Homo sapiens: one gene and its partners. The protein of the gene in region 1 interacts with the protein of each later gene in a pairwise test. Each region holds a gene or a part of one and is shown in the gene's direction. Other genes may lie near its edges.

What was found.
Region 2: the proteins of CCDC102B (region 1) and ARL4D interact in binary tests that used the Homo sapiens proteins (3 or more experiments, as listed by UniProt).
Region 3: the proteins of CCDC102B (region 1) and FAM217B interact in binary tests that used the Homo sapiens proteins (3 or more experiments, as listed by UniProt).
Region 4: the proteins of CCDC102B (region 1) and EXOC5 interact in binary tests that used the Homo sapiens proteins (3 or more experiments, as listed by UniProt).

The regions. Positions count from the first base shown.
Region 1 is NC_000018.10:68,801,079-68,808,104, forward strand, and holds part of CCDC102B (coiled-coil domain-containing protein 102B), read left to right. Parts: intron 1-7,026. UniProt on the Homo sapiens protein: During interphase, forms fibers at the proximal ends of centrioles to maintain centrosome cohesion. During mitosis, dissociates from the centrosome following phosphorylation to allow centrosome separation. Contributes to CROCC/rootletin filament formation.
Region 2 is NC_000017.11:43,394,129-43,401,657, forward strand, and holds ARL4D (ADP-ribosylation factor-like protein 4D), read left to right. Parts: upstream 1-4,864; 5' UTR 4,865-4,965; intron 4,966-4,967; exon of another isoform or gene 4,968-5,024; intron 5,025-5,532; 5' UTR 5,533-5,604; coding exon 5,605-6,210; 3' UTR 6,211-7,009; downstream 7,010-7,529. UniProt on the Homo sapiens protein: Small GTP-binding protein which cycles between an inactive GDP-bound and an active GTP-bound form, and the rate of cycling is regulated by guanine nucleotide exchange factors (GEF) and GTPase-activating proteins (GAP).
Region 3 is NC_000020.11:59,936,339-59,943,414, forward strand, and holds the start of FAM217B (protein FAM217B), read left to right. Parts: upstream 1-4,050; 5' UTR 4,051-4,197; intron 4,198-5,859; 5' UTR 5,860-5,971; intron 5,972-6,088; 5' UTR 6,089-6,174; intron 6,175-7,076. Other genes in the region: PPP1R3D (protein phosphatase 1 regulatory subunit 3D), read right to left, coding at 2,694-3,593.
Region 4 is NC_000014.9:57,265,880-57,272,908, reverse strand, and holds the start of EXOC5 (exocyst complex component 5), read left to right. Parts: upstream 1-4,003; 5' UTR 4,004-4,260; coding exon 4,261-4,287; coding exon of another isoform or gene 4,288-4,401; intron 4,402-4,542; exon of another isoform or gene 4,543-4,662; intron 4,663-7,029. Other genes in the region: AP5M1 (AP-5 complex subunit mu-1), read right to left, coding at 3,521-3,594. UniProt on the Homo sapiens protein: Component of the exocyst complex involved in the docking of exocytic vesicles with fusion sites on the plasma membrane.

The DNA.
Region 1 (7,026 bases):
AGAATCATACTATCATTAAGTAGGCTTTACTGAAGGAGTATCTTTTTGCCGTACACGAAAACAGATGAGGATAGTTGAAATGCAAAGATTTGGTCACTGACCTTGAGATTTTATTTTTGTACAGGTTTAGGTTGCATTCTAAGAATATATTCTATAGAAGACATTTTGTATAACTAGTGCTCCATCCTCAGTGCCCTGACTAATTGTAGATGCTCAATGGAGATTGTGAGCTTGAGACCTTGATTGTAAAATGGAAAACTAGATATTGTATTGGAGGTTGTGCTCAAGGCCATTTAATTGTAGTCATAGCTTTGCAAAGGACTGTTAACATTATTATATACTTAAATATTATCCAAGTTGATTTATATTTAATGATATTTCCTAAAAGAATTGCTGTTGTGTGTCATAAATATATTAAAATATTTGATGTTAAAATTTTGATAGAAGGATTTTTTTAGTAGCTAAAGAAAAAGGTGTCCTTAATATTGAGAAAAAAAACATATGCTCACTGAAGAATTTATAAATATATCTTATCATAGTGTCTGTTTCAAATTTGTAGAATTAAAGTTTCCAAAAATAAAAGTGAGATTTTTAGTCACTGACTCGGGAGCATATGTTTCTAAGCTGCAGTAAACGTTTGGAAATATAACACAGGTAAAGAGGCAATAGTTGCATGAAGAAAAACCTGTAGCAACTTTAGACTCATTTTCATTTGGAAATAGTTTTGAGAGTCTTTCATACAATCTTTCCTTTCCTCCCTTAGTGAATTTAGGATTGTGAAGGCATTAGGTGAAAGATTACATTTATGACCTCTGCAAAAGATCAAATAGTCTTATTAGTCAGCCTATATTCATGAATTTTCTATCTTCTTTTGACATGAAGGGTTTTGAACAAGCGTTTCTTCTCTGGATGAGAAGAAAATGTATTTCACAATAAAACATGAAAATTATAAGGTGCTCAGTGGGATTATAACATTTGGTAGCACAGGAAAAAAGAGAAAGATGTGGAAGTGCCATAATCCATTGGTGTTTCATATAATTCTAGAAGGTTCTGGTTATAACCTGTTCCTAATTTGGAGCTAGAATAATCTCAGGGATTGTCTGAGGGTTCAGGTGAGCTTTGTTCTATCTTTGTTTGGAAATCACTTTACAGGTATTGTCAATGGTAGGAATGAGTTGGGTCAAAGCAACTACGTAGAGTCCCTGCCATCCTATTTTTGATACTGCCCAGGCTTCTTCATTCTTTTTGTAATAATGAAACTTAAGTTATAGAATTTATGATTGCATGGATTAAAAACATGGATGTTGCAATTATGTCGTGCTACAAGTGCCCTCTAAAGGTGTTAATGCTATATGAATTTACTTGCTGGCTTTTATGTTTTTGATATGTTTTTATATTTTATGTTTTTGGTATCAGGACTAAATAAATTTGACCTGATAATGTAGATTAATGGGAGAAATTCCAGTATTCATGGATTAGAACTAGGAGGGCTATCTCAGATACAGGCTTCTCACAGAAGGCTGGGGCCTAAGCATAGGTACTGAATGCAAAGCTCTGGTCCTGGACCTCACATGGTCCATTCATTGTCTATGGTTGGCCGTCATTGTTTCCTCTGTGGCTATAAGTTTCTTCCATATTATTGAGCAGGATGTTTATCTGAATTAATATAAATGACATATTCGAGAAGCATAGATCTTTATCCAAAACGATATCAGAAGTAGAAATAGTGCAGAAGACAAACTCCACCTCCCATCTGCTGATTCTTTTGAAACCCCTTGGTCCTCTTATCTCTGAAAGGGATACATGGCTTTGTTCTCCCAAATATCCTATCCACTTTCCACGCTGTTTCAAAAGTATTTCTGGCCAAATAAATGTAAATCTTCATCTTTTGTATATACAGATAATCATCATAGGTGTATTTGTGAATTATTTAAGTACTTGGAAGAATGAAGTTGCTGATAGCAATTAAAGTGGTGTGATTGGGGTTAACCTCACTTAAAACTGTTTCTTTATTAATTTTAAAAGCCTATAAGCGTTTAATATCTAAAAGCCACCTTCTTTAGAGAAGACTGACTTATTTAGTGGAACTTGTAATGCTTGCCTTTTGGAAGAAAAGGAATAGTTCTAAGTCACTCTGTTTTAGATTTGTCCATTTAGTAATAAATGTCTACCATGTCTCAGACACTGTTCTAGCAATGGAAATAGAGATGTGAATAAAAAGTAAAACCCCTTTCTTTACATTAAGCATATAGTCTAGCTGGTAAAGCAGTAGAATCCATACATAGTATATAAATATATATTAAGTCATGATAAGTACTGGAAGAAAAAAAGAACATTCAGGCTAAAAGGGAATAGAATATTTACACACTCTTGAAATAACCAGGGAATGTCCCTTCTGTTAGGGTGAAGGATGTAAGATACTTAACCACGAGGAATCTTGGCAGAAGAGAAGTATAAAGGAAATCACATGTGCTAAAGTCTTAAGTCAGAAGAATGTCCCTTCAAGGAATGGCCAGATGGCCGGCAGCTGCTGGGAATGAGCGAGGCAGGGAGGCACAGGCAGAAGCTACTTTAAGAGGAAGTAAATCCAGCTTAAGCTTCAAGATATTAGGGTGGTGCAAAAGTAATTGCATTTTTTGCCATTACTTTCAATGGGAAAAATCACAATTACATGGTCACCAACCTAATATTATTTTACTTTTAAAAGGGCTCTTCATACCCCAACTGTAGGAGCCTCAGGTCGGGAAATCATGGGTCCTGATGAAGAGTTCAGGGATGGTTTATGTTTAGATCATGACAACATCATAAACTACAACCACTTTATTCTGAGTTTGATGGGAAGTCATTTGAATGTTGGGATCCTAGAAATATTGTAACATAAGTTGAGTGTTCAAAGCATCCACTCGGCTGTGCTGTGGAGAACATACTGGAGTAGGGAAAAGGTAGAAGTGGGGAGGCCAGATACCATACAGTATTCCAGGCAAGAGACAGGGTGGTTTGAAGGAGATATTAGAGATGGAGTTTTTGTAATTCTGCATAGGCTGTATTTCATATTTTCCTGCCAGAACTGATGGAGTTTCCAACAATGATGTGCAATGAAGAGACAAAGGAATCAAGGGTAACCCCTAAGTTTGGTCTGTAAACCTAGAAGAGTGAAATGTGCATTTATTGACACAGGGAACACTGTGGAGGAGCAGGTGTAGATGTGAGGGGAGTTCAAGTGTTTGTTTTTGAACATGTGAAATCTGAGATGCTGATTAGATATCCTTAGTGATGTTAAGTGGGCAGCTGGACACGTGAGATCCCAGAGATAAAGGAACATCTCAGGCCAGAGATATGTCTGTTAGGAAATTTCAGAAAATTAATGAATTTGAAGTCAAAGGCCTGGATGCCTTCACCCAGAGCAATTACCCCAGCCTGAAGTCTCAGTGTTGGAGCGCTTGCAGTCAGAGGTGTGAAGCTGAGACAGAATGTGGGGCAGCTACCAGGGAGTAGGAGGAGAACCATGAGAGAGGATGCCCTCAGAAGCCAAGAAAGGGAATGATGAAATGGACAATCACATACAGGGCTTCTGGTTGGCCAAGTAAAACAGGAATTTCAGGCCTGGAATTGACCATTAGATTTGCAATGTAGAAGTCACTGATTTCCTGTTTTTGTGGCAAACTAGAGTTGAAAATGATACTGCGACTTCAAGAGAAAATGAGATAAATGAAAGTGTCTTTAAAATAATTTTTATTTTAGAAAATGCCAAAGATATGGAATGGCTGCTGGGTTGGGATCAAAATCTTTTTTTTTTTTTTTATGTTGAGGGTATTATAGCATGTGCATTTGCTAATGGGAATAATCTAATCTAGAGAGAGGTACAAACTAGTTAAACAGGAGAGGAGTATATTTGAGGAGGCCATGTCCTGGAGCGGATTAGAGGAAATTAGATAGAGCATACAAATGGGAAGTTTGGTGTTAAGAACGTGGAGTAATTCTCTATAAAAACAGACAGAATAACATATGGGTATCCATTAGACACATAGATATGATGGAACCAGTGGATGGCAGTTGTCTTATAATTACATATCTTTTGTAAGTGAAATAGAAAAACCCCCGCAATCTCAACAGATAAGGCAGAGCTGAATAAGATATGAAAATTTTGAAGATAGCTAATGTATGGGATTATTCAGTAGAATGTTTGTGATTTAATCAGGGAAAAATATTAATTTCCCTATGGTAGAGTTGGCTTGGCTACATTAAAGCCCATATGAGGTTCAGAGTCAAGAAACTGAAGTGAGACCAGATAGCAATGGGTGTGTTTTCTCAAAGCCTGATCAAGAGTGTAGGTGCAGACATGGAGCAGGAAGACAGCTGTGATTCACTGACATTAGAGTTTCTAAGCAAGTAGGGTCAAGAGAATGCCAAGCTTGCTCAGAGCAATTTGTTAAAACTGGAGCACAGAATAGGGAGGAGAGAGTGGATGTGAAGCCGATGAGGAAGAGAGAAAAAACAATACAGTCCATTGACAGGAGGCCATAGCTAGGTCAAAAAAGAGAGTTATGGGGACAATAGTAAAGGGTAATCAGAGAGGTGCTTATCATTGATATGGAAAGAAATGCTAGTATGGTAATGGGATCTAGGTGCATAACCAGCCAGTGAGTGGGTGAGGTCATATTATTGGAATTAATAGGAACTGAGAGGTGAGGATGTTGTAACGACACTATATATGAAATACTTTGGACATGAAAATTTTTCTTGTCCCTGAAAACATATTCAACTTCTCCTAACCTATTAACATAATTGGTTTCATTATATAAATGTTAATACCCATTCCCATGCCAAGACTCTACAGTGTTGTCAGTGATCTCATTTACTTTTCTCTCTGCTTATGTAACATTTTGATCAGTCCTACAGACTGTATTAAAGAGCAATCTTCAGCCAGTGATCAAAGCAAGACAAAGAAGCCTTCAAATACAGCAGATTACAAGCCCATAATTTTTTTATGTGTTTATCATTTTGCCAAAATTTTGGATAAAAATAAAATTATATGTATTAATAATGTTAAGAACACATGAATTAATATTATTTTTAGGTTTTTATTTACAACTGCTGTTTTAACAATGACATACATTTTTAAAATTAATAATTATTTTTTCCCATGTTGTCTAAACAGCTTTAAATATATTTTAATGGGATGTCTCAAAGCTTAGATAAGAATGCTCAGCAAACATATCCAATTTTTAAAATGATATTCATTTTATTTTTGTATGATTATTGCAACATCACCTCTTCTGTATTATGTGGCCATGTGGAAGAGAATGAGAATGTCACATTCACTTACCTTTGAATAGCAGGCTACTTTGGTATGCATTTTTATTATCAGTAGAATATGTTTTTCAAGCATATATTTGCAAGTAATATTATTAGTAATTATCTTAATTTCCTGTATTTAGGAAACCTCTAGGTGTTAGAGACAGCAATATTGCCAAAACATTCTGAACATGTTTGAAAAAAATCAGAATGCAGTTTTCTATTTCTGTAAAATTCTCTGTGGAAAAAGAGAAGCTCTTAAAGTCTATTGGATGCTCTACAGCTATTTTGTCCAATAGAAATATAATTCAAGCAACATTTGCAATTTAAAGTAGCTACATTTAAAAAGTTAAAAAATGAACATGTGAAATTAATTTTAATAATATTTTTGATTTAATCCAATCTTTCAAAAATATCACTTCAAAATGTAATTAGTATGAAGTTATTAATGAGATAGTTTACATTTTTACGTTTCATGCTGTGTTTAATTAGTACTCACCGAACATCACAATTCAGGCGACCCTCATTTCAAGCGTTCCCTAACTACATCTGATAGGTGACTACCATTTAAGACAGCACAGGTTTAATACTCCAGAATATAAACGGTTCAAAAATATCTTCATAGCAACCATAGAATACATTTCAGGCATTGTATTTATCTCCTTGTTGAAAGGGGGAACACATATGAGTTTGAACGACCTTATCAAGGAAGAGAATTTACCTCACATTTTCTGAACCAGTGTTCTCTGGGTTCTACTATAGCTCTCATGTTATCATATTTACATACTTATGTTATTTTGATACTGAGAAGTATGTTAAAGATGGTGGCCTCTAGAAACAACTGGGACCAATATATTCTCTGCTTGCTATAATTTAAGAAAATTTACTAATTTAAGAAAATTTAACAGGTGTGAAAATCAGGCAATGATAAAAATGATAAAACTCAATTTAGGAGTCCACACAATTCTTAGTACTTTTTCTCTTTTTTTATAAATTAAATGCAATGTATAGATCTGGGAAATCATGAGATATTTAAGAAAAACAAGGAAAAAATAGAGTTTTTGAGGAAGAATTAAGATATGACGTTACAGGAATTACTTGGGAAAGAGTTGAAGACAATAATTACATGATTGGGAGGCAAAATAAAAACCAAGCAAGCTTTGAGAAATGTAAGAGTTTAATCTGGTCTTCCACTCTTTGCAGCTTTCCTTGCACATGGCGTCCATTTTCTGTTTTAGGGACTGGAAAGACAGATCTTTTGAGAAATACAAACACTGAGTATTCACTTCCTGTTATTTTGACATTTTTAATCCAATTCCTTTACTTGTCTTTACTAAGACAAACAACTATGCAAAAATGAAAGGAAACAAATGAAAACGGATCCCAGATCAATCAGCAGTTGTGTTAAGGATTCTACTTTCTAGTTAAATTTTTTATTTTCTTTATTGCTACCTTCTCCTATGTCAAAGGATGAAAACCAGAAATATAAACACTTAAAAAAAAAGATGATTGCAGAGTTGGTGGCCTCTATGTCTGAATAAATTACTAATTTATTTTGGCTAACATGGAGAAAATATGAGCAGGGATGAACGTTTCACTAGGATTTGAGCAACTAATCTTCGAATCAAAAGCTAACTTTTTTTTCTTAAGATTCCACGTCTTTTCCTTCTCAAGATTACAAACTCATCTATAAGTTTCATATTATAGATGTAACTTTCCCAGTGAAATCAA
Region 2 (7,529 bases), on another chromosome or scaffold:
AGGGGGCAGCATCTACTTATTTCTAGCCCCTGGCTCCACCCTAGGCCTTGATTTTGGGGTGGTTGCCAGGGAAAGAGTTCCTGGTTGGGGAGAAGGGTATCTTTGGGGCCCTTTCGCACATTTTTGCCCCACACTCATACTTAGCGATAGGTTGGGTTTTCTCAATTTTGTTCATGAGGAAACAGAACTGGGATTTGAAAAATGGGCCTTCGTGATTGCCGAGCTGGTAACTGCTCCGTGGCGTCCATTCCCCCACCCCACCCCCTACTCCTGCAGACTCCTCTTTCCCTCGTTTGTTCACGAAGACAAGTACTTGGTTAAGATGCTGCAGAGACAAGGATGTTCTCAGCCACTTCCTAGAAGAGCTCCACCCATCCTCCTACCCTCCCTTACTTCAGAGCATGGGCTGTTATGGGGAAACGACCTGGAGACATCTAAAGCCCCTCATTACAGGATGAGGAAACCGAGGCTCCCAGGTGGGGAAGTTACTTTTTTTTGAGACGGAGTCTCGCTCTGTCGCCCAGGCTGGAGTGCAGTGGCGCAATTCGGCTCACTGCAACCTCCGCCTTCCCGGTTCCAGCTATTCTCCTGCTTCAGCCTCCGGAGTAGCTGGGACTACAGGCGTGCGCCACCACGCCCTGCTAATTTTTTTGTATTTTTAGTAGAGACGAGGTTTCAACATGTTGGCCAGGCTGGTCTTGAACTCCTAACTTCAGGTGATCCATCCGCCTCAGCCACCCAAAGTGTTGGCATTATAGGCGCGAGCCACTGGGCCCGGCCGGAAGTGGCTTTTTACTTTTTCAAGTCACTCTACTAGTGAGGAATGGAAGGATGGGACTCACGCACTGAATCTCAGTCTGGTGTTCCAGCATGTCCTAAGGGCAACCTGTCTCTCCAGTGTCATCCCCATTTTTGGTCCTTGTTTTTCTCCTTTAAGTTCCTCCTCTCCAATAAAGGCCTGAGAGTTCTATACTACTCAGACACTGCCTAGAAATGCAGGGTTTGTAGGAATTCCTGGCCAACCCAGTATCAACAGAACCCCCAAGGGCCCAAGGGCCCAAGGACCCCAGGCTGGGAAACTCCCACGCTAAGGGTGGAGGTTTGGTTCTCCTACTCAGGGAGCCCTCTGAGTACATTTATTCCATCATGCATTCATTAATTCACACAAGATTTTCTGACTGCCTATGTGTGCCAGGCATGGTGCTGGGCATGGTAGAGCTACAGATAAGAACCAGCTGCTGCCCTTGATCACGTAGTCTGGTGGAGGAGACAGCTCTGAGGAAGAATGATGCTTATCTGACTCAGTGTCACTTAAACCTTGGCTCAGCGTCGCCGCTTTGAAACTTTCTCCTGCACACTCTTCCACCAATCTAAAGTAGTTCTCCAGCCACATGTGGTGGCACGCACCTGTAATCCCAGCTACTCAGGAGTCTGAGGCGGAGGATCTCTTGAACCGAAGAGTTCAAGGCTGCAGTAAGCTATGGTCTCGCCACTGCACTCCAGCCTGGGTGACAGAGTGAGACCTTGTCTTTAAAAAAAAAAAAAAAAGGCCGGGCGCGGTGGCTCATGCCTGTAATCCCGGCACTTTGGGAGGCCGAGGCGGGCGGATCACGAGGTCAGGAGATTGAGACCATCTTGGCTAACACGGTGAAACTCCGTCTCTACTAAAAATACTAAAAATTAGCTGGGCGCGGTGGCGGGCACCTGTAGTTCCAGCTACTCGGGAGGCTGAGGCAGGAGAATGGCATGAACCCGGGAAGTGGAGCTTGCAGTGAGCCGAGATAGCGCCACTGCAGTCCGCCCTGGGCAAAACAGCGAGACTCCGTCTCAAAAAAAAAAAAAATTATTTTTATTTTAATTTTGAAAAAATAGGGAATGCTTCATGAATTTGCAAGTCATCCTTGCACGGGGCCATGCTAATTTCTGTATCGTTCAAAAAAAAATGATTGCTTAATGTACAAATGTTCAGATGTTCTCTGCAGGGATTAGTGTAAGCCCATAGCTTAGTGCTACCTGGACGAGCTGGGCCCCTTTTTTTACCCCTCCCCAGCCCCACCTTCTCCTTCCCATTTGTTCATTAACACCTTCTCTGGCAAACATGAAAGACGGAAGGGTGGGGTAGGATTGTCAGTTTCATTTCCTTTATCAGATAAGTGACAATTTCTGTCTTGGATGTGAGTCCCAAGACAGATTATAGGAGCCATGTTAAAGAAGCTTCAAAGATTGTGGAAGAAACAAGACAACTTGTGTATTTTCAGTTTTTGTGTGTTTTCAGTCTCATAGCCATTGTAACATTTGTTCAAAGCCAGGTTTGGCCAGTTTCTAGCTGGATGACCTTCAACAAATTACCTAACCTTTCTGTGCTTCAGTTTCTTCTTTTTAGACTAACCATACTTACTTCATGGGCTTGACTTGTGTATTAAAAAAGGAAAAGTAAGCAAAGTTCCTAGACCAGAGCCTGGCATGCAGTGGCCACTCAACAGTGCAGTGGTTCTCAACCGCTGGGCCTGCTCCGTCTTCCCCTCTCCTAACTTCACCATGCTCAGGTCTGTCTCCTGTACGTTAGCTGCTGCTGCAACCTGTCACCCTCCAACTTGGGGTGTAACAAACTAATTTCCTAAGGTCTTAATCTTAGACTAATTTCCTAAGGTCTTTAGGGATTTGGGGAGGCTCCCTGCATTGCTGGGGAAACCAGGTGGCTGGTTTTGTAGTGGAGGGGAGAAAAAGGAGGTGGCAAAGCACACTGGTGACAAACAGATGGGAAGCTTATTTATCAGCACTTGATTGAGGAGGGTGGGCAGGAAAAGGCTGGGCCGTGCTGTCTGGCAATGACTTCCCTTCTCCTTTTTCCAATCCCTCTCACACATAGCCCTTAAAAAGATTAATACTGAATTACACAATAAATAAAATAATCCACGCCTGTAAATCCCAACACTTTGGGAGGTCGAGGCGGGCGGATCACCTGAGATCGGGAGTTCGAGACCAGCCTGACCAACATGGAGAAATCCTGTCTGTACTAAAAGTACAAAATTAGCCGGGCGTGGTGGCACATGCCTATAATCCCAGCTACTCGGGAGGCTGAGGCAGGAGAATTGCTTGAACCTGGGAGGTGGAGGTTGCAGTGAGCCGAGATCGCACCATTGGACACCAGCCTGGGTAACAAGAGCAAAACTCTGTCTCAAAAATAAATAAATAAATAAATAAATAAATAAATAGATAAAGTTACAATTTACAATTTCATTCTTCTTTGATTGGCCCTCTTCTCTCCCCCACCTAATTGCTGTTGTCCTTTTGGTCACACTGCCCTTTGTGACATCTCCTTCCTTTCAGGGCTGCCCAGACTGTAGCAGGCTGCAGTGGCTGGGGAGACCCTACTCATTCCTGTGCCCCTCCTAACCAGTCCTAGATAGGGCTAAAGAACGTCTATAAACCTTTTCAGAAGCTTCCAGTTGACACATTCTCTCTCTTCTCTGAAATCCTACAAGTGCTATCTCATGATTTACAAAGACCCAATACATGTGCTGTCTCATTCTGTCATTGCCAGTCTTAAGTCTTAAGCCCTTTGAGGCCTGATTCTACAGCCGAGACATCCTCTATTTCTCCACCATCTCTCTGTCTCATTCAGAGCACACAGTATGAATGAGGTCAATAAACACAGTGTTTTTTGTTTTGTTTTGTTTTGTTTTTGTTTTTTTTGAGACAGAGTCTTGCTCTGTTGCCCAGGCTGGAGTGCAATGGTGTGATCTCAGCTCACTGCAACCTCCGCCTCCCGGGTTCAAGTGATTCTCCTGCCTCAGCCTCCCGAATAGTTGCAATTACAGGCGCCCGCCACCACACCCAGCTAATTTTTGTATTTTTAGTAGAGACGGGGTTTCACCATGTTGGCCAGGCTGGTCTCGAACTCCTGACCTCAGGTGCTTCGCCCACATCGGCCTCCCAAAATGCTGGTATTACAGGCGTGAGCTACCGTGCCCAGCCCAATAAACACACTGGTTTTTTTTTTTTGTTTGCTTTGTTTTGAGACAGAGTCTTGCTCTGTCGCCCAGGCTGGAATGCAGTGGCGCTATCTCAGCTTACTGCAACCTCCGCCTCCCGGGTTCAAGCGATTCTCCTGCCTCAGCCTCCCGAGTAGCTGGGATTACAGGCACCCGCCACCACGCCCGGCTAATTTTTGTCTTTTTATTACTGATGGGGTTTCACCCTGTTGTCCAGGCTGGTGGAACTCCTGAGCTTAAGTGATGTGCCTGCCTCAGCCTCCCAAAGTGCTGAGTTTACAGGTATGATCCACTGCGCCTAAACATACTGTTGAGTGTAACCTCAAATAGGTCATTTAACCCTTCAGGGCTTTGTGTATCTGTAAAAGGCAGACAACAGTCCCTAACAGGCTATTGCAGATAATGGGCTTAGCACTATGAAGCAGCTGTTTTATGGGGCTCCAGGTTCACCTTAGGTTTGACAATTGAATTATGAAAGATAAAGGAGAAAGACTTGTCAGCCTCTCCGAGTAGATCCTTTGGCCGAAGGAGTGTCCATGTGGGGTGGTATCTCGGCCTGGTGGAGGGGGATGCGATGGTAGTGAGAATATTAGGGTATTCATATCTTTCCTCCCGAGTCAAACGTTGCCAGGCACGTTCCTTTCGCCCCTCCCACCCTCCATTCTGCATTAATTCCAAGTTTAATTCCAAATATTAGAGTGTGGTAGAAAAGGTCAAATAGAGCAGCCACGGATTAAGCAAACGCCCCTCCGCGTATGGTGGGGGCTGCAGCGCCCGTAGCTCCACGCTCCGCCCCGCCGCCGCTGATTGTCCCGCGCCTTGTGACGTCACACGCGGGTTTTTAAGGCCGAACCCTAGGCAGGCTCTGCAGAGGCAGCGGTTGGAGGCGCGGTGGGTGTCTGCGGGGGTCTCGCGGGGCGGCTGCGGTGTTTCACCGGGAAAGGCTCGAGGAGAGCGCGGCTCACGAGAGGTAAACGGACCCTGCAGACCGTGCTGAGGCGGTCCCGGTGCCGGGCCGCTGGAGCTGGGGTCGGCCATCGGAGGAGGGCGGGCGGGCAGGAGAGTGTCGCGGGGCGGTGGGGCGAGGGTCGCGGAGTAAGGAAGGGCACCGTGTCAACGGCTTGGGGCTGCGGAGGGCGGGTGGGAGCCGGACTCAATCTCCGGTCTCAGCGTCTGCACCCTAGCTCTTAGTTTGGGGGCACTGTCGACTTCCCCCGTCCCTCGGGGATCTTGCCTGGGGGATGGCGCCATAAGCTCTGAGAAGAGGCTCTAGAAGCCCACTGTCCATGGATCGAGCCCTCACCCCCCACTTGAGTGGCCCAGGACCTGGGAGTCTCTCTAGGTCCCATCGCCCCCCTCACGACCCCCCCAGGGAGTGGGGGAACACCTCTGTTATGCCTTAAAAAAAAAAAAAAAAAGGAAAGGAATTTTAAAAATGAAGGATGGGAGGGTGATTTAGGAAGGGATCAAGAAGTTGCAAATCTTGTGTGTATTATTAAACGTCTCCTTTTTCTCCCATGACCTTTTCTTGGTTCAGATAACCCAGCTGTGCTCCCTGGAACCTTCAATTTCAAGGCCTCCCTGCCTCTACTAGGCGCCTTAGCTCACTATGGGGAACCACTTGACTGAGATGGCGCCCACTGCCTCCTCCTTCTTGCCCCACTTCCAAGCCCTGCATGTCGTGGTCATTGGGCTGGACTCTGCTGGAAAGACCTCCCTCCTTTACCGCCTCAAGTTCAAGGAGTTTGTCCAGAGTGTCCCCACCAAAGGCTTCAACACCGAGAAGATCCGGGTGCCCCTCGGGGGATCGCGTGGCATCACCTTCCAAGTGTGGGACGTCGGGGGGCAGGAGAAGCTGCGACCACTGTGGCGCTCTTATACCCGCCGGACAGACGGTCTAGTGTTTGTGGTGGACGCTGCGGAGGCTGAGCGGCTGGAGGAAGCCAAGGTGGAGTTGCACCGAATCAGCCGGGCCTCGGACAACCAGGGCGTGCCAGTGCTGGTGCTGGCCAACAAGCAGGACCAGCCCGGGGCACTGAGCGCTGCTGAGGTGGAGAAGAGGCTGGCAGTCCGAGAGCTAGCAGCCGCCACTCTCACTCATGTGCAAGGCTGCAGCGCTGTGGACGGTCTGGGCCTGCAGCAGGGCCTTGAGCGCCTCTATGAGATGATCCTCAAGAGGAAGAAGGCAGCTCGGGGTGGCAAGAAGAGACGGTGACCCAAGCCCCCCCTCCCTTTCCTCCCACCTAGTAGGGGTCTGCACACTTGGACAGCAGGGTGGGACCAGCCTGTGACCTCTCAGTCAGACTGGGGTGCAGGACCTGTCCACCTCAATGAAGGAGAGAGGAGCATGGGGTGTCCCGTTTTGGTGCCACACTGGGGTGGGGATGGGAGATGGGATGTCTTTGCATATCTCTCTCATCCTCTCTGGAGAAGTGGGCGCTGCAGGACTGTGGAGACGTAAATGTAAACTGTGACTCTACCTCGACCCTGTTTCTTATTTTTCTTCTCTGGCTAAAAATTTTTAATTGGATGTGTTTGGGGGCGGGGGGATGGAAGTGACTTGGAGAATGTGTTTGGGATGAAATAACTATCTCCCCTTCCTCTGTCCCCCAACTGGGGAGTCTCCCCAGGCTGCTTTTCTAGGAATACCAGTCACATAGTTTTTATTTTTGTGTCTGTGAAAGTGCCAAGAACCCCTCCCCACATTTGTAGATCCATGACCCTTTTTATAAGCTGTGTGTGTCCTCTGTATTATTGTTATTAACTATTTTTTAGCATTTGCCTGTAAGTTATTAAAGACTGATAACTGTAGCTCTTACCTTGGTCTGGGGCATTTTCCTCTCCTTATCTTGCCCCAGAGACAATTCAAGATTTCTATATGGGGTTGTGGCGCAGGGGGAGGGAGATTTATCTTGAAGCTGAATTTGCAAAGCAAGCACTTATAAAAATTAGATTGTGTGTTACGGGATGGCTTGTGAAAATTATAGGGGGGAGTGGAAAACCCCTCAAGCTATTGCCTGATCTCTGTAGTTTTTTGGGTGGGGTCACTTCCTTTTTCTCTGATTTAACACCCCTCCCCTCATCCTCTGGGTCTTACTTGTCCCTTATATCAACTGCTCCTTGCAGATTTAACTTCAAATTTTGCTAGTCTGAGCTACTCCTAGGTTCTTGACCTTGGTGACACCTAAGTCTATATAGGTAAGTCCTCAAAGAGCCATTCTGTTCCCATCCTCCCCACTTCCCCAGTCTTAGGTTGGTTTGATTTTTTTCCTCCTTGTAAGATGTGGTGAGAGTGGAAAGTAATTCCTCCCTGGCCTTAAGTCACCTCTGTGTACTCAATCCTGCTGACTGGCTCACTGGCATGATGGCAGCGGCTGGTGCTAGGGAGGCCTGGGCTGGATTGAGCCAGCCTGGCCCTGGTGACTAAGCCATGAGTTTTCCAGCTCTGGGAATGGTAGCTCTTCTCACGAGAGGGGCAGAAGTAGTAGCTGTTTGTGCTTGGTGGCAGAGAGGACTGCTGGACATACACCCTCC
Region 3 (7,076 bases), on another chromosome or scaffold:
TAGCATAACATTCAGAATTAAATGAAATCACATATTTAAAGCACTTAGCACTGTGGCCAAGCAAATAAGGGAAGACAAAATAAATGTAAGTTTTCTTCCCCCATGTGCAAGACTTTGTACTTAGGTGAGGGTCACGATCCGGAAGGCAGACAGACAGACACTCATTACTGCCTGCACAGTGTCATTAACTGTTGTAAGAGAAGTACATTAATGATCACATTCCCTGTATTCCCCTAGAGCTTTCTTCATACCTCATGCTGACCTGGCATATAAAATTGCATTTCCTTTTCTCAAAGACACATACAACAACTCTGCTACTGACGCTGAGGCACAATGACAAAATTTATTTTTGCCAAGGCTCTACGTTTATCAGTGTTGTAGAAAGGATAAGACTTGCATGTGAAATGATTTAGACAAGAAGTTTCTAAAGCTTGGTCTTCTGTAATTAGGCCACAAGAAAAACATACTGAAGCATAATAGAATGGCTCACAACTGTTTTTGCACATATACTTTAATACTTAGGCTTGGGTAAAATCATTTTAAATAACATATTAAAATATGTTTGGGGGGACAACCCAGCAATTGCACAGCCCACTAGAAAATTTTAACATCTAAGTAATATAACTGTTTTAGGGTCTGAAAGTTCTCCTTCAGTTGTTCCACAGCCTCTTTATCAACTAGGCAAATATATTTAAGCTTTTAAATTTCATAATGTTGGTATTTTTTAAAAGGCACGGGAGGTTCACTTAATATTAAATATATAACATTCACTTTCATAACCAAAACCTTTTTGGCAAGTGACTTTCACATAGATTATGAGATTCTCTACATGCCTTAAAATAAATCTGGCAGCTCTTAACTCATATCTAAATTCTCTGGACAACTGTCTTGCTCTCTGTTTTGGGGCCAGGGGCGTAGCAGTGAAGGCCCTAACAGGCTTGCTGACCTAATTGGACAGTTTGTTAAATAGCAGGAAATGTAACAAGGCTTCTCTCTCTCTTGCATGTTAATGTAGTGAACAGTGCTAATAGCCAGAGATTGTGCAATTTAGTCACAATATTTCAAGCCAAAATTCAGTGTTCTTATATTAAAAGATACCGAAGAAAGCTATCCTTGTTCTTTGAATTATAAAAGCACAGAGGTTGCAATGATCAGAACCAAACTGGTTAAAAGCCGAAATGCATCCTTTCAGTATTGATTTGACAGATGCCAACAAGCATTCAAAAATTTAGAGTTAATTTCTTGGTGACAGGTAGCATAAAATTGATCAGACTGGTTTCAGCTGTATCATAAGCTTCACAAATTGGAGATCTTGTCCTTCCTGGCTGTTTTTTTTTTTTTCCCACACCTTAATTCTAGCACCTGTTGTCAGACCACTGTTCAGCACCAAAAGAACTCCTCAGCCTGGAGTTCTTTGGAGTTTTAAGTGATTGCCTAACTCAGCAGGGGACAGTGGTCTTGACTTCTTGGTTGACGGTTTAAAAACATAAAAGAATTTTATATTTTAAAACTGACAAACTAGAAAATGTTAGAAACTCTATCTGAAGGCAGAAAGTATAAAGTTGGTGGGTACCTGATAAAACATGATGTATGTAAATACAGTTCAAAACAATTTAAAAGTATAAATATTTGTCAATTATTTTTCCTCCAGTGCTCTGGCTATTGCTGAAAACACCTTCTAGTTCCACCTTGTAACTGGACTCCCAAAAGATGAATGCTGACATCTTCTGATGCTTAACAAGAAATAAAAATAGTCACCTTAATCATCAAAAAGGTAATTGCAAAGGGCACTGTTGCCTGAAATTCTCTAGTCACCTGAAAACTGAAATAACTGAGGCAAGACTTCTTAAAATGCTTAGTTTCAAACTTAAACAGAATGGCCTGATAATGATCAAACATGTACAGAGAAATACATGAAATCAGAATTGTGAATGCAGAGAAATAACTGTTTTGCTAGTTTAAAAGTCTGAAGCTTTTCCCTCCTCCCCAGCTGTTAATGTAGGAGACACACAGCCTAACCAGGACAGTCTCAATGCCCAGGAATGGTTGTGTGATGACTGATAAAGCAGAAATTTCTTGCCTATTAATAGTTTCCCACTGTTAGAAGGCTACAGCCGTTGGCAATCAGATGTGGGCTCAGGTTTTCCTTATCCTGGGGCAGGAATGCCTGGAGGGACCACGATGTGGGTCACACTGTACATTCTGTTTACTGTGGGCACAAACACAGAACTTTTTTTTTTTAGCTTATTAAATCGAGAATATTCCTGAGGAGGCATCCGCTATGGGCTAAAGGTCCCAACATCACAATAATAAATAACAGCTATGTTTACAGAGACACATTCAGGACACATGCAAAAGCTTTTCCTAGCAGGAGGACTTGGGCCTTTGCAAAACAAGCTGCTTGGGCCTCCCCAGAGGGCCCACCCTCCCATGCACCTACCCCACCACCCTGCCCCAACTCATTACACAACTCGGCCTTCTGGCCACCTGAGGCTACTTTTTAGACCAAGTGACTCAGACGTTTCAAGTAGAAGACAGGATGGGCCACTGCCAGGGGACCTTGCAGCAGAAAATTAGGTCAGAGGACTTGGAGGGTGGTGAAGAACAACCAGATAGATGTGAGAGCCCAGCAGGGAAATGACAGGAGGCGCAGCTTAGGTGTGGAGGCTCCAGGTGGCCGGTCCCCGCGCGGCTCAGATGAAGTGGATCCAGCTCTCTTCGCACTCCCCGCGAGGCATGTGCAGCGCGTGGTTGCGACATGTGAGGCTGTAGTCTCGGTGGTCGTTGTTGTCCCAGTACTCGGCACCCGCCACTTGGTAGCGCACCGCGAAGTGCACGCGGGAGCCGAGCTCCAGCAGGAAGGGCGGTACTGGAAAGCCGAAGGTGAAAACGTCCTCCGTGCCCTCGGGGCCTGCGGGCCCGCGCCACCGCGCCACCGCCTCGTGGGTACTGCGCCAGCCCGAGAAAGTGTAGCGCACAGCCACCTGCTTCTCGAAGGCCACGTTGCACACGCGCACCGTACCGCTGATGCCAAGGTCCGAGCAAGTGACACGCTCCAGGCACACGAGCTGCCGCTGCAGGCGCTCGCCAAAGTCGGCGGCCTCGACGGGCGGCGGGAAATCGGGCACCAGGCAATGCAGGGTGAACTCCAGGTCCTGGCTGCTGCAGCACAGGTCCGAGTTGATTGCGAGCCGCGACAGCACGTGCAGCGGCACGGACGGGTCGTCTCCCGCGTTGAACACCTTGACCTGTGCCAGCTCCAAGCCCAGGGCGTCGGCGAAGCGCACGCGGAGCTTCTGGCTGCAGCCCGGCCGACACGCAGCGCCCGGCGCGCCCGCGGCCTTCTGGCGGCGCTCGGGGGAGCTGGGCAGTGAGCGCGCCCGCCGCAGGATGATGGGCCGCAGGCGGGGGTCGCAGCCCGACGGCGCTGGCGTTGGCGGCGGCGCGCGGCCCGGGCTCCCAGGGGGCCTACAGGCCCGCGGCTCCAGGGCCACGCCGCCGTCCAGGTCCGACAGGCAGCTGAGGCTCCGGGGGCCGAGCTTCCGGGATCCCAGGGCGCTAGGCAGGACCGCGGAGCTCGGGCCTCTGGACATGGCCCCGCCGGCCGTCGGAAGATGAGGCAGGGATGAGAGACGACCTCCCGACCCCGCGACAGCTCCCTCCGTGCTCAGAAGCCGCAGAGAGTCCACCGTATCTGCAACCTGCGGGGGACCTCTCGGGCCCGGTGCGCCCTACCCTTGGTTCGCCACCTTGCTCCTCGAGTCCTTGTCCAGGTCCTCCGCTTCTTGCGGTTAAAGAAATTGTAAGAGTGGGGAGTTTTTCTCTAGTGGAAGCTTTCAGAGGCCTCCCGGGAGCGCAGGGTAGCGCCTCTTTTTTCTTCTTGCTTCCTTGGAGGTTCTTACAAGAAGGCTGCGTTCCGGGAGCGGCCCCTCCCACTTTCCCGGTCCGCGGCGTTACTTACAAGGCTGCAACTTGACCGGGTGCAACTTCCTAGCGAGCCTCCGCCCCGCCCCTCGTGACGCCGCCTGCAGGCGGGCCCCCGCCGGCCTCAGCTCAGCCAGGGAGCTCAGCGGAGCTGCGCGCCTCCGCCTCCAGCTCCCCTGCCGCAGCGCGCCGCAGCCGGGCGTCCCCGCGCGGGCGCCGGAGAGGAAGGAAGGCTGGCAGCCTCGTCACGTGTCCGCTGCAGTCGCGAAACAGGTCTGATCAATTTCTGTTTACGTCTGCCTGGATTGCGCGCCTATCGATCATAGACTTTGTCTGCACAAACGGAGGACAAGGAAAATGCATGCTGCGTGTCCTTAGATTTCTGGGTTGTGGATGGGGGGAGCGGTGGTGCAAAAACCGGCCTTGCCAGGAGCTGGTCTCAGGCTAATTTTAAACATCGAGGCCAGCCCACACTTTGGACAGGTTCACTGCAACCTGGACCCTTGGTCAGACCGAGGGAGCCTCACTGCGTAGAGGAGCAGCGTCATGTCCACATCACCCAGAATGCTTTGCCGCACCGAATGGCCAGCAGATTCCCTTGAGGGTGGGGAGGGGAGGTGCTGCTGTTGTCTTCCTGGACTCCGCGCCAGAGAGGAAGACAGGGGAACAAGAGTTATTACCCGCTGATGACTTCTGCAGCTGCCCTTAATCAGCCTCTGGCGCTTGGGGAGCATATTTGTAGCCAGAATCTCCGACTTTTAGCTTTGTTTCCAAGCAAGCCAGAAACACCAGCAAGGCCTGGAGCTTGTTTTCTGCCTATTTAGAACCCTGCAGGCATTCGTGTCTCTCACCCGGTAGCTTTGAGCACAAAACCCCACAGCCTTTGGTGTAAAGCATACCAGGTGAAATGAAGTAGAAAAGATGCAAGTGCACTTTCCAGAGAGCAGTTTGGGGCCAGCCATTCCATTAAGAAGGTTCCTTTTTATTGTCCAGAGGGACAAAGCAGAAAGAAAACCAGACTAATGAAAGGGGGTTGATTCAAGAACATTCGTTGCATCTAAAATGAGTCAAGGCTGTTGATTGTGGTATAATTCATGAAATGTGAGAGAATGATTTTATTTATCATTGGATGTAAGCTAACTAAAAAGGCTTACATGATTAATGTGGGAAAAATACAGGAAAGTTTCAGGAAGAAAATAAAAATCTTCTATAATCATCTCTTTTATTTTACAGAGACAGGTGATACGGGAAAGAGAAGTATCCAATTTCCATTCAGTGCACTTTTAATAGGCCACTCAAAATGAGAGGGGAATAACAGCAATATGTGGTATAGGTCAACAATGCTTCATAAAGAGATGATATATAATATGTAATATGTATGAATATATGGAAAGTCTTATAATGGATTGATGTGATAGAGAAGGCCGAAAAATTGAATGGGAACGTTCCTCCTAGAGTTTAAGCTCCTTCTGAACAGGGACGTGCATAATCATTGCCATTTTTCTGGGTACTCCTGTAATTATTTGTTGCATGAATGAATGATTGGGCAATGCAATGATTGAACGCTGTAATAAGACCTGACCTTATTTAGCCTTCCAGATTTCTTCAACATATTATTTCCAAGGAAGATTATACCTGTGTGTGAACAGGGAGAGAGAGAGAGAGATGGAATCCATTCACAGTATTTATAGTAGTGTGATCCTGTGATCCTGTCTCTAATATCTACTGTAATAAGCAGAAAAGACAAAGCTGTAAGCATAAGACAATGTCTCCCTTCCCCAGTATTTCATAACCTAGAGTGCAAACCACTATATGATCACAGCCTTAATATTTCAATATTATACAAGTATTAAAAAACAAGTGAAAAACCAACCCGATACTGGTGGTAGGACCATTTGCAATCAATAGTTACTGACAGTATTCTGTTGCTTCTAGTTCCGGTGGTGAGGAGACCTTTCCAAATATAAGAGGAATAAAGAAGTCACCTCCCCAGCTGTCATCATCTTCCAGCAGATTGAGCAAGAATATTTTGAGCACTACAGGAAAGGTAATGTAAACTTAGAAGAAAAATCTGACTTAGATTTATTCTGGGATTTTTGTTTGTTTGCTTGCTTGTTTCTTGTGTACATGTTCACAGTGTTTATTACTGCATCCCTGTTTTTAGACAGTCCATCAAACCCGAGATGATGATCAGCCACGTGATTTTTTCAAGAAGAGGAATAGGGTGAATGAATCTCATCAGAAAAGCAGGTAAATAGTTTTAGTATAATTGCTTTATCTTGCAAAAGACTCATTATCTCTGTTGTCCAGATTGAATATGTGGAGTGGGGAAAAAAGTATGTCTATAGATAAGAAATATACATTTATAATTTTTTTCTAGCAGAAATGAATAGAAAAGTGGTTTAAGCATAATAGTGGATAAGGATTCCAACGGTCATAATTCTGGCAGTTGTTAGCAGAATTATAATTTTGAGTAAGTCCTTTAATCACTTTTCTATGTTAGTTTCCTTTTATATAAAAGGATAGTGACAATAATTAATTTTTATGGATGCATACTGACAGGCAGGAACAAAATGTTTTAACAGTGTTATGAATTCTGAATAATGGAGATTCCTTCATTTCTTCATTTATTCAACATTTATTGAGCACACGTTGTACTATTGGCAATGATTTAATGTCCTGCATATTTATTAATTAAAATGTAGCACGTATTCAAATAGTTGCTTAGGTTGTTTGAAACCACTGGGCAAATGAACCTCTGAAGTTTCCAGAAAGCATGTTTACCACCCATTTCTATTCATTCTATCTGACTTATATTACAGAGAAGTATTATTAATCTTAAATGCCACGTTCTTGGTAAATAAATTGAAAAGAGGATATTTTCAACTCTGATGTGAGATTCAGCATCAGAATAAATTATGCCAGAGAGAATTAGTTTCTATACTCATAATGCACACAGTATTCATTATTCCCTTTACCTGCTATTCACAAGGTAACACTAAGACCCTGTGTTTTCATTCATATGTGTTACAGGGCACCATATGATTTTATTTCTGTTCTTTAAACACAATTTTCCCAAATGTGTTTTCTGTTTGAAAACATTGTAACAAGCTTTTGATTTAAGGTACAGGTTTGTATGTGCAATACTTTTA
Region 4 (7,029 bases), on another chromosome or scaffold:
GCAAGCAAGCAAACAAACAAACAAAAAACCCAAAAGCAGTTACCCATGTGTAGGTAAATATCACCTACATTCTGATGCATTTTCTTGATTAAGAAAGGGGAAGAATCAGGTAGCACACCAGTAATGGCATGGCATAGCAGGTAAATGCCATTTATTTCTCTAAATCTCTGTATATGAATAGTAGAGATCTCTGGACTAAACTCTAGTCCAATCTCTTATTATCTAGTTTTCCAGAGGGTAATTAAAGTTCTTAAGTATAAAAATTTCACAATTGACTGTGAAGATAAGTTAATCTGGGAACTTACACAACACCCCAATATGTGTTCAATAAATATTTTGTTGGATGACTCAACCTATCATTTCTAATTTATTATATGCTTTTTCTAAAACAGGATTCAAGGCTTAAATGGGCCTACAACTATGGGGTATGATACCGACCTAAGCCAGATGTAAGCTGATGCTATTATTATCTGGAAAGCAAACCTTTAAACCAGAATCTTAACCAAGTTTTGTTATAGGAAATAAGTACTTAGATAGAGAAAACATCATTTGCCTTCTTAAATCTTAAATATTGGCCACTTATTGACACTTATAAAGTGTCAGTGCCTATCTGTGTAGCTCTAACACCTCCCCCAAGAGGTTAGAAAACTGAAAATATAATAAAATTTAACTAAGTCATTCAATGATACAGAATTAAATTATTTGAACACAACTTGCTACCTCCATAAATGTATTGAAAAGCCCATCCAAACATATCTGACTTTTTATTCTGAAATAATATCCTGAACACAGTGAAAAAACATTCTGAAAACTAGGATTTAAGAAACTTATTTACTTAAGCAGTAAAAAGTTCACCTCTATGAAATATTAAGATAAGCTACAAAGCAACAGATATTGTATTGGTACAAGAAAGACAAAGTACTAGAACTGAGACAGACCAACATTTATATGAGGGGACATAACTAACACTACCAGTAGCCTCACAAATTAATGAAGACATGACATACTGCTTAAAAGATGATGTCAGAAAAACTGACCCACACTACAGAGAAAACCGAAATGGGATTCCTACTTAACATCATATCCAAAGATGGACTACATATGGGTTAAAGACCTAAATGTAGCAGATGAAATTATAAAGAGAAGACAATGTAGGAAGATATTTTTGGGAAATATGGGTGAGAAAAAACTTCAACAAATTCCCAAAAGCAATTAACTAGTTTGATTGCATCAAAATTAGTGATTTCTGTTTAACCAAGGGCAACATAAAGTTAATTGACAATGGTAAATTAAAGAAAATATCTGTACTATCTAAAAATGACATAGGACTAATACCAAGAATACAAAACAAACTCCTACAAATTCAGAGGAAAAAATAAGCAACTTTCAAAGAAAAAAAGGACAAGACATGTACAGGCAATTCACAGTAGAGGAAACTTAAAGGACTAACAATCATTGCTACATACAGAAATGCAAACGAAAATAAGATGTTCTTTATTGGCAAAAATTACATGTTAGGAAAGAATGGAGATACGGGAACCCCTTCTTGCTGCTAGTGAGTGCGTAGGTGGCTGAAAGCATTCTGTGGAGCAGATTATTTGGCAGTCTTTAGTCAAAATCGGCATAGACATGCCCCATGGACAGATTTGAGGATGCATACTTTGGCAGTGTTCTTTGGAGGCAAATTTGGGAGAGGTCATCACTAGGTAAAGGGGACAGGTAAATGTGTAGGATGTGAACCATGAGTACTACAGAGCAAGAAGAAACAATGGCCTAGATTTGCACTGTCCAACATAGTAGAACTACCCACATGTGGCTATTTAAACTTAAATAAAAATCAATTAACATTACCCAAAATTAACAATTGAGTTCCTCAGTTATGCTAGCTGCAGCTCAAAAGCTCAATAGGTACTTGTGGCTAGTGGCTACAGTATTAGCCAGTACAGATTAAGAACATTTCTCCTTTCCATCATCATAGAGAATTCTATTGGACATGCTGCCTTAGATGAACACAAAGTATCATGGATGTTTCTTTAAAATAGTGTTGAGAAATGTGACAAATGTAACATTAGGAAGTGAAGTCTAAAGCACACTTAATTATGTAATTTGAAAAATGCATACAATGAAAAAGAGTAACATCGAAGATGTTAAGAGTTATCTGTCAGTGGGAAGGGAACGGCAGTTAGAAATAGGTAACCAAAGGGAATATAAGTAAAATGAGAGATACTTTGTACGGACTGATGCGCCTGGTAAAACCACGTACTAAAGAATATTATTAATCTCCTGTATTTGAGGTCCAACAACAAATGTTGGGGTTAGTGTCAGCCAGAAATCCTGGGGGGAAATGGTAAACTCCAACTCTGATGCCCTCAGGAACAAAAACTGTTAAGGTTGCAAAGAAGGAATTTTTCATATCCCCATTGCCAACCAATTTTCATTTAAAATTAAAATCTTTTTTTTCTGCCTCAATCTCAATTCTACTATGGTACTACTTCACTATAAGCTTTCTTCAGGGAAGAACGAATTGTGACAAAAAAGAACTATCAATGGCCAGAGAATAAAAGGTGAAATAGACCCACTCGATTGCCACCAACATTTTACAATGAGTTACTGTACAATTCCCTTAACAGAGCTATTTTGATTACACAGGGCAAATTCTAATAGTGGGACCAGATCAACTTAACACAATATATGAAATAGTGAATACATTTTTTTGTGTTTCTATTTTCTTCAACAATTAGGAACTGTAAACTGATGATTTCTACCATTGACACATATTAACAAGATAAAAATAAAAGCCTGGGCGGGGCGCGGTGGCTCCTGCCTGTAATCCCAGCACTTTGAGAGCCAAGGCGGGCGGATCACGAGGTCAGGAGATCAAGACTATCCTGGCTAACACGGTGAAACCCCCTCTCTACCAAAAATACAAAAAATTAGCCGGGCGTGGTGGCGGGTGCCTGTAGTCCCAGCTACTCGGGAGGCTGAGGCAGGAGAACGGCATGAACCCGGGAGGCGGAGCTTGCAGTGAGCGGAGATCGCACCACTGCACTCTAGCCTGGGGAACAGAGCGAGACTCCGTCTCAAAAAAATAAAAACAAAAAAATAAAAGTCTGATATAACTTAGCATGGATTTTTCAGTAGAATAAGTTAAAATGTTCTGGAACGATTTTGTCAATGCATGTTGAAAAATCTGAAAATGTTTAGTGCTCAGTAAATTTTCTACCGTTCCCTTAGTCATCTCCATTTTAATTCTAAGCAGACGGAGGTCATTTTAAAACACAATACTAATAGAAAACATATACCGTAAATAATATGTACCAGTCATCAACTCAATTCTCACAACACTGTAAGGTAGGACTATTAAAATCTCCATTTAACAGACGAAACAGAGGTCTGTTAACTGGCTAGCCCAAGGTCACGCAGCTATTCGTGGCAAACCTGGGCCACGAAGCACCACAAAACTATGCTACTTCATCGATCTTCTGATCCATCATCCCTGAGGATTCAGATTTGCATTTACCTGGAGAATCTCACGGTGCCACAAAGTGGAGTTCCCGGTTCGTGGCTTATGAGCCACACTGCCCGCTGCGCCATGGTTAAGTCAGTAAAGCATTAGCTCATCTCATAATTAAGGTCGCCACCGAGGAACAGCGCAGACCGGCTTTCTCAGACAGACTCTTAACAGAAGCCCTGAGGCTCATCCTGCGCCGCATACCGGTCGCGCTCAGCAGAGAGGTTAGCTTTTTTAGGTGAAGTCACTAACGCTTCTGAGTCGCTCTAGGCCAACACACACCACAAAAAGTTCTAAGAACCCCAACCTATAACCTTGAGAAATTTACCTATACCCTGCAACTCCGGTATTTTCTTCCTCTAAATTCTACTTCCGGAATGGTGGCCCGCAAGGATCAAAGTTCCTCATACACGGTAGCGTCGAGCCTTTTTTCGGTTCTTTCGCCGCTCGTTTTATTCGCCGGCCCCTCCCGACAACCTCCCTGGCGCGCGCAGTTCCACTTCCGGCGTATGAGGCGGTGACAATGGGAGCAGCGCGGGCGGCGCCGGGAGGCAGCTGACAAGCGTTTGCGGCTTCGCTTCATGGCCGCTCTCCCGCCCCTCCTGGGATCTGTGGGGAGCTGGGGAGCCCGCAGCGGCCCGGAGCCGGAGCTGGCGAGCCGAGCGGAGACCTGTGCGCCGCGCCTCTGAGGCGCAGCATGTGAAGCGGAGACGGCATCCAGTGGGGGGCGAGCCTCTCAGCCGGCCGGGATGGCTACCACGGCCGAGCTCTTCGAGGTGGGCCCCGGCGGCTCTACAGGGAGTGGCAGGCCCGGGGTTTGCAGGCAGCTGGGTGGGCGGGCCGAGGAGCGGGCGTTTGCTGGCTGCCCAGGAGGAGCCCTCGGGAGAGAGGTGCGAAACAGAAGGGTTGGGGTGGCAGCTCCGTGTCAGCGCGGGCGGAGCGTGAAATGGGGGAGGGGTGCTTGGGGCCGAGGTGGGCTGGGCGGCCGGTCGGCAGAGAGGGGAAGCCGGGTGTCCCAAGGGAGGAGGGTTGCTTTTGTTTGTGGGGGCAAGAGGGAAAGTCTGGAAGGTTCGGGTGTTGGAAGATGTCTACTCCGGATGAGTAGTGGGAAGGGCTGACTCAGGACGAGGAAAGAGAGCCAGGAGCCTCAGGTTGGGCGAGTCTTGTCGCTGGGGTCCTCGCGGGAATAATAGGAGGAAGCCACTTGAGATCGGGACTCTTGGGGGCTTCTCGTTTTGAGTAATTATTCCATTAGTAAGGTTGCAGGTGGCATTCATAGGACTGCCAGTTTAACCTGACATTTGAAAAGGCTGGGACAATTTTTTTTTTTTTGGACAATAAAGGCCTACTTATCTCTTTCGACTGAAGAGAGATAGACTGAAGGGAGGCAAAATTCAAGTGAACACTTTATTTCATGTAATACATAATAATACACTCGAGGCATTTACGTGTATTATAAAATAAAAAAAGTTTATAAAATAAAACGAACACTTCGTTTCATGTATATAATGCACCTTAAGTGTATTATATGCATTTACATGTATTATAAAATCACCTAACTGCAAGCTAGAGAATCCTTAATATGTAATAGTGAGAATACTAATGTCTTTCCTCGAGCGTTTACAGTATCTAAACCTTAAAATTTAATTTCGTGAAGTCCGTTGTAAGAAGCTGTGATAAAAGTTTGAGATAATAGAATAGGAAAACTCTAATTAGGCTACAAAACAATGACACGTATAAAGCATCTCCTTGTGTGAAAGAAATGAAAACGGATAAGAAAAAGGAAAGAAAGACCCCTTTTTTGTGTGTGTGCTTGTGTTTCACATTGAGTAACAAAAGTGTAATAATTGAGAAGACTGTAATCCACAATAGGGAACTTCTCCATAAGTGAAAATGGTATCCTTTTTCTGCGTAAGATTCAGCAGTTTTTGTGGCTTACAATTTGAATGCCACAGTTTTAATAACAAATGGAAATTTACATTTGTTATTGTTACTATATTTTGCATATCAGTCAGCTTTTGGATAGATAATGCTTTTTTTGAGAGGAGTAATATATGTTATTGTTATAATAAGTTGTAATAAGACAGTAATTTGTGAATGAAGGATTGTAATTACAAGAAAGACTTCAGAGATATTGTATTTTCTCACTTAAGTGTTGGGAGATATGCTACATTAATTTCTGTAATTCCAAAATTGTGCCATCTGTTTATTGACACAAGAACGGGGAGACATTTTTCCTGCTAGGAACTTTTACTGTGTCCCTAGGTACTAAGTAGTGCTGTGGTTCCTTGTTTTATTTTTCACATCTTAAAAAGGGAGAAAACGATGAAGTTGTATGAGATCTTTAATTAAGGTATTTGCCGGCAAGCCAGCTCTTAACTGAAAACTGTTATATATGTTGTCATACAGTTCATAAGACATTATCCTTTGAGTTAATCCTGCTTGACAGTTCCAGTTGTACCTTGGACCATCTTATGTATATTTTTATTTAAATGTTTGACCACATGATTTCAGTAACTTATTTGGAAATATGTTTGATTTTTTTTTTTCCCCTCTCCCTAGCGGGGAAGGGGAGGAGGTGGGGAAATATATATTTTGCTTTCTGGGGTCCTGCTATTAGGTTAAGTAGTATATATATACGTTTTATATATATATATATATACACACACACACATACACATATATATATATAACGTATATATAACATACATATATATAATGTAATTTAGTGACTCTAGTTACATGGTAGCCAGTAAGATTCTGTGATAATAGAGACAGTAGCCCTTAGACTACCCTTAGGCCAGAGGGTTTTTAGGACAAATTTAAACGTATTTATAGATCTTAAAACTGACGTGACTTTTTTTCTTGACTATATGTAGCTTGTTGCTTCATCATAATTAAAAGCATAATAGTTACAATTAAGTTTCAATAGTTATAATTAAGAAGTGCATTTATCTTTTCTGGTACTGCTATGAATCCAGCCCTACAGTGGACTCTACTCTTGAGTAAGTTTTCATCCCCAAGTGAAAAGTTGATCTCTTGGCCTTGGAGGGAGGAGGAAAAAAAATCCTGTCACTGCTCAGTTTCCTGTAACTACTGCCATAGCATCTAGGTTGTAGTAAGAGTCACGGGAAGTATCTTTTTCTCCTGCTTCCCTTTCTTAGTCCCAGCTGGAGAACTGTGGAAAACGGAAGGCAGGATGTAGTCAAGGATGTTTGGTTTTTATGCATCCTGATTTTCATGCACTGTTAAATAGAATTATGCTTTCACTTTTCATGTTAGGAGAAGTTAAATGAAAACAAAATTAAGCTTTTGAATCCATGACATTTCATTATGTTAACTCTGCTTCTTTTAAAATCTTATTGGTCCCATGACTCTCAATGAAAACAACTTCATATAACAAAATCAAACTGTAATATATTTCCTCAGTTGACCGAAATGATTTAGTAATAGATGATTTGGCTATTGTAATAGTGTATATCCTGGAAGTTTCTCAGAATACCTTCTTAGTTTCAACT